Linked DNA regions of Homo sapiens: region 1 is linked to region 2. The links come from fine-mapping of genetic effects on gene expression. A gene starts in region 2. The other region holds a variant in brackets. All regions are shown on one strand. Distances are between the middles of the regions.

Region 1 (2,777 bases), 29 kb after region 2:
GGGAAGCTTCTGAGGACTTGTGAGGCAGGAACGGGCCTCAGCTACTGCTCTGAACAGGTGTTTAGGGGGATTCCTGCCAATCACTGCATTCTGGGGTCTGGGTGTCACCGGAGTGAAGAGAAGTGAATAGTTAACAAAAAGTCCATCTGCATTTCTAAACAAATTTTTGGGAATATTAAATCAAATGGCAGCGGGCAGTGGGATGTGTAAATAAAACCCCCGTGGAAGTGCTGCGCGGACTCGTCGCCCGGCTGTCCTTGCAGGTCTGACACTGCACCTTCCACTCTGCACCACGGGGCCAGGGGAGCCCTCGACCTGCCCTCGGCCTTGAGGGCACCAGGTTCAATCTCATGCTGCCCTTTATCCCCAATTGCATCAGTCACCACAGAAAGCCCCAGACCCCCTCAACTCCTGCACTTTGAGCCCCACAAGGCCCTAGACCCTCCTACAGTTGCCATCTCTCCCCAGCCCCTGAAACCCTCCTACTGTGTTGTCTGTCCTAAGGAACATTTCCAACATGCTCCACCTCTTCTGGAAGCATCCTCTTTGCCTTCCAGAAGCAGATGCCAGGCTCCCTTCCAGCAGTGGCTCGACCACTGGCCTAAGGGTGGGTATGGCCCCCCATTGCCCCTCACTGCTGTTTCCAGAGCCCTGGCTCTGCATCTTACCCCCAGCTAGGGAGGCTTCCTTTGTGCGGATTCTGGCTCCTGGCTCATGTCACTCTCCGGAGCACCACTCCTGTCCAGCCTGCTGCATGCTCTTCCAGACATCTCTGGCCTCTCCATTCCTTGGCAGCTCCTCTTCCAGCGATCCTCCCTGTTCCCTCAGCCATGCACTCCCAAGGTCATCTCTTAGATCACTGCAGCAACCGCAGCCCCCCACTTTCAGTCCCATGCACCCTACTCGCTGACCACCGTCTCCTCTTTTTCCTCTTTCCAGTTCACCCTGTCCAGCTCCCTGACCTCCAAATCCTGCGACTCCTCTGGAACCTCTGCTTCATTTCACCACTCTGCACCCCTCCCCACAGCTACCCCTTGCTCTTACACATTGAATCTCCTGGTTGTTTTGACGGTGACACATAACACAATTGACCATTTTAACCTCCCTTGCATGTACTTTTTTTTTTTTTTGAGAC[A/G]GAGTCTTGCTCTGTCACTCAGGCTGGAGTGCAGTGGCGCGATCTCGGCTCACTGCAACCTCCGCCTCCCAGGTTCAAGCAATTCTCCTGCCTCAGCCTCCCAAGTAGCTGGGACTACAGGTGCCTGCCACCATACCCAGCTAATTTTTTGTATTTTAGTAGAGACGGGGTTTCACCGTGTTGCCCAGGCTGGTCTCAAACTTCCTGACCTCAGACAATCTGCCTGCCTCGGCCTCCTGAAGTGCTGGGATTACAGGCATGAGCCACTGCGCCTGGCTTTTTTTTTTTTTATTTTTGAAACAGAGTGTCGCCCTGTTGCCCAGGTGGCGCGATCTCAGCTCACTGCAACCTCTGCCTCCTGGGCTCAAGCAATTCTTGTGCCTCGGCCTCCTGAATAGCTGGGACCACAGGTGCACACCACCATGCCTAGCTACTTTTTGTATTTTTAGTAGAGACAGGGTTTCACCATGTTGGCCAGGCTGGTCTCGAACTCCTGACCTCAAGTGATCTACCCACCTTGGCCTCCTGAAGTGCTGGGATTACAGGCATAAGCCACTGCACCTGACCCCTTGTGTACACTCTTGACTCTCTTAAGAGGTAAATCCAGCTTCACCAGCTCCTCCCCTGCAACCACGCACCTGAATGTGGCCAGAGAAAGACACACAGCCACCCCACCCGGTCTCATTGTGGATTCGGCACGAGCTCAGCTGGCATCGTGCTGCCCGGCAGGCCACTCTTCTCACAGCACAGTCACAAATATGCCCGCTCCCACACCCCGACAGGAGTTTTTTGCAGCTTCTCCCTCCTCTGACTTCCAACCTCTCCTCCATCCTCCTCACTCCCAGCTTGTGCCCGTTTTCCCCTTCACTGAGAAAAAAGAAGCTTCCGAAGAACTTCCAGAGCCTCCCACCACACCCTCTGCCTGCCAGCAGCTGATCCCGTTCCTCCAGATGAGCTATCTGTGTTCCCGACTACAGCCAGCCGTGCCTCCGTGTGCCAGCTCCGTCCCTCCTCCACACCAAGGACACTGCTCCAGCAATTCTCTCCCACACCATCATTTCATCAACATTCCCCTCTTCCCTGGAGTTCCCCCAGCAGCATGCACAAGTACTGTTACATCCCCATTGGAATAAGCGCTCTTCTTTCATTTTTTATTACTTTTTAAAAAATAGAGGCAAAATCTCACTATGTTGCTTGGGCTGGTCTCAAACTCCCGGGCTCAAGTGATCCTCCCGCCTCAGCCTCCCAAACTGCTGGCATTTTAGGCGTGAGCCCCTGCACCCGGCCTCCTGAAACAATCTCTCTTAACCCTACTTATCCTACAGGTTGCTGCCCAGTAGCAACAAAACTTCTGAAAAGAGTTGTCTCATTTGTGCTCCTCCATTCTCCCTGAATCCCAATCCTGTCAGATGCAGCTCCCGCTGCTCCACTGAAATGCTCCTGGCAGGGCCACCGGTAGCCTCCACATTGGCAAATGCTGCCGTCAGTTCTTAATCTACTGCAAACTCCGCCTCCTGGGTTCAAGCGATTCTCCTGCCTCAGCCTCCTGAGTAGCTGGGACTACAGGCACCCGCCACCACACCCAGCTAATTTTTGTATTTTTAGTAGAGATGGGGTTTCACCATATTGGCCAGGCTGGTCT
Region 2 (2,777 bases):
CATAAGTTACTCTCTTGTAGGTAGAGCCACTACACCAGTGAGAGGACAAGCTTATTGTATAATGTAGCAAAGAACCTGGCACATTGGTCACCATGCATAGAAATGGAAACTGAGAAAGGGGCAGGGAACTGATCCCCTCCTCACAATCTAATAGAGCAGCAAGGCAGCTCAGCAACTCTCACATCCGCTTGCCACTGAGTATGTGAGAACCTCGTCTTCGGCTTCCTTGCGCAATGACAGGGTGGCACGAATTCCAACTCTACTGATTTGATTCATCATGAAAAGTTGCATGACACCAGATACATTCTCCACTACCCCCAGCATCAAGATTCCAACTCTGGCTGGGGCATGCATTAAGTCTTAGCAACCATCCCCAACTCACCCCTCCCTCAATTCACCTGTGGTCTCTCTGCCATTGGCCTCATTCTTCTCTGCCACCTGTGGTTCTGTGACAACATCTCCATTTTCTTCATGTCCTTTTCTGGGCCGCTGTCGAGCTTTGGCAGCCTCCTTCTTTTTGGCTGCCTTCTTCTTGGCCAGGTCGGAGGGCATGATGATGACCCACAGGGGTAGGTTACTGTTGTTTCAGGGAGCCTGAAGGAAGGCAAACAGATACCCCCAAACCCTAAACTTACTAGTAAGAATGCCTGGGCCCTGCTCCATCCCTCTCAGGAATCTTCGTATCAACATCAAGCCTCTGATGCCCTGGCCTGCCCCCGCCTCGTCTGTTCCAACTTGGTCAGGGTATCCCAAACCAATGCCGATTCTCAGCGGCTCTTCTAATCTTAACATCTCTTCCCACAGGCACCAGTCCCCCACGGACTGCCTCACTTTGGAAACGCTCCTTCTTTCAGGGCCTCCGGCTGGGGACCAGGTTCTGCCCCTCAGCGGAGGTCTCCGTCTCCGGTTTCCCTACAACTTGGCGCTCCGCACTCAGCTAGCCGCCTCACTTTCCGGGCTTCCTCCTCCCGTCCGTCTCGGGCCTCTTCTCGATCGTCCCTCTCCACATCACCCGGCCGTCGAGCCCAGCCTCTTGCCGGGACGCACTCGTCCTCGCCCGCGTGAGTCCCCTCCGAGTCTCCACGCTCGTCACCCCCGGGTCCTCCCCCACCCCGCCCGTCAGCTTCTCTCCCTTAGCCCTATCTTCCCCCTCGCAGAGCCCTCCATCCAAACCCCGTCCCTGCTTCCTCTTCTAATTCTCTTTCCCCCTCACCGGCGGGGACCCTCTCCCTACAGCTCCCCTTCCCCTAACTCACTGGGCCTCGCTGCTCGGCCTATGTCGCAACAGAGCTGCTCCTTAGGATCCTCCGCGTGCGGCCGGCTCACCAGCCAATCACGGCCTCGGGTGGTTCTCGGCGCGCCGCGCTGCCTCCTTGGAAGTGTAGTCCTCAAGTTGCAGCGGCCAAGAGTGAGACCCGCCTTGAGGACTACTATGTATCCCACAGACCTCGCGGGGCCGCGTGACGCCATCAGGATGCGCGAGGCTCGGGGAGGGGGCGGGATTAGAGTCCAAGAGCTCTCTGCTAGCGGGCGCACTTCGGGCGCTGGAAACTGCAAATCCCAGATTGCTCGTTGGATAAACCGGCTGAGCCTTCAGGCTTTACCCCACCTCTCGAAAATCCATTGAGCTGTTGTGGAGTTACGAGTTTTTAGAGCTACCTAACCGACTCAGGCAGCAGGGCGTGCAACTACACTTCCCAGCTTGCCTCAGCGGGAGTAGATCGAAACAATGGGAGAGGAGAGGTGGGAGCGTGAGGGGAGGACTAAAATGAAGGGGGCGCTGGGCAGGGAGGGGTTCCAGAAAGCGGGGCATCGCTGCAAAGATGTTGCCAACGGAATTCCTTCACGAAAGAAAGCGCCTTGGTTTCATTAAACCTTAATTTTAGAGGCTGGTTCATTGTTAAACTTTTAGAAGGTGCCAGACGTTGTTTTGGAACCTCGGCCGCTTAGCCTCCCCGCTGCCGCATTGTTAGGTTTCCACTGAAGCCATGCAAGTTTGGTGGAAAGGGCCCCGAGATAAAAAGGCCCCTTGGCTGAGATTTGTTTTATTATTAGTTAGCCATGCTACCGGGCCCGTTACTTTCCCTTTGAGTCTCACTGTTTAAAATCTCTCACATGACATTTTGGGCTGGATGGTTTAAAAATAAATACAATCTCTCAAGGACTTCACATTACCTACATTGTAAACTCCAAATGTTTAGCCTCAAGTACAAGGCAGGCCCTTTGTGATCTTTGTTACTTCTCCAGGCTCCTGTGCAGCAGAAGCCTCACCATCAGTGACGTTTGGGGCAGCAAAGGAAGCTATTGCTCCCTTTGAGCATATTCTCCAAATGTGGCACCTTTTCGCCCACAGTCCGTGACTCAAACAATGAGAATTAGTTTTTCTTCTCAAACTCATACTTCAGTAGAACTTACCTACTTAAATAGTTCGGAGATTAAGCGTGCTATTTTACACCTGCATGCCTTTGAACATACATTTTCCTAGAATATCCTCCACCAACGAAGTGCCTACTATCTGTCAGGCTCAGATATATGTGCTGGAGTTGCAATGGTGCAAAGTCACTCCCTGACCTCAGGGAGCTCATAATAAAGAAGGAACATGTGAAAAGTAAACAAGCCGGGTGTGGTGGCTCACACCTGTAATCCAAGCACTTTGGAAGGCCGTAGTGGGAGGATCATTTCAGCCCAGGAGTTCAAGGCTGCAGTGAGCTATAATCAAACCACTGCACTCCAGACTGGGTGACAAAACTAGACCCTGTCTCTAAAAAAACAAAAAA

Which allele goes with the higher level. Alleles are on the strand shown, and positions count from the first base shown. SD is a standard deviation of normalised expression in the study named.
For the expression in spinal cord of the gene that starts at base 1,299 in region 2, allele G in region 1 goes with a lower level than allele A (small effect, 0.28 SD a copy in GTEx).

Evidence for each region. PIP is the estimated chance that this variant, and not a neighbour inherited with it, causes the effect.
Region 1: its variant is the best candidate, but not a certain one, in a credible set for the expression of ABCF2 in spinal cord (GTEx, PIP 0.67).

Annotation. Positions count from the first base shown.
Region 1 is chr7:151,254,769-151,257,545 of GRCh38, forward strand. It overlaps a transcript of SMARCD3 not described here. Among named protein-coding and RNA genes, the nearest start is that of SMARCD3, 7.5 kb to the left of the region's middle. RefSeq lists enhancers at 1,366-1,866, 1,867-2,367. The variant A/G (reference allele first, on the strand shown) is at 1,136.
Region 2 is chr7:151,225,907-151,228,683 of GRCh38, forward strand. ABCF2 (ATP binding cassette subfamily F member 2) reads right to left here and starts at 1,299. Exons shown (of 15, transcript NM_007189.3): 1 at 1,257-1,299; 2 at 399-594. The coding sequence starts at 552. It overlaps ABCF2-H2BK1 (ABCF2-H2BK1 readthrough), which reads right to left and starts at 1,299. Exons shown (of 17, transcript NR_160983.1): 1 at 1,257-1,299; 2 at 399-594. RefSeq lists a silencer at 1,076-1,135 and enhancers at 1,236-1,285, 1,396-1,475.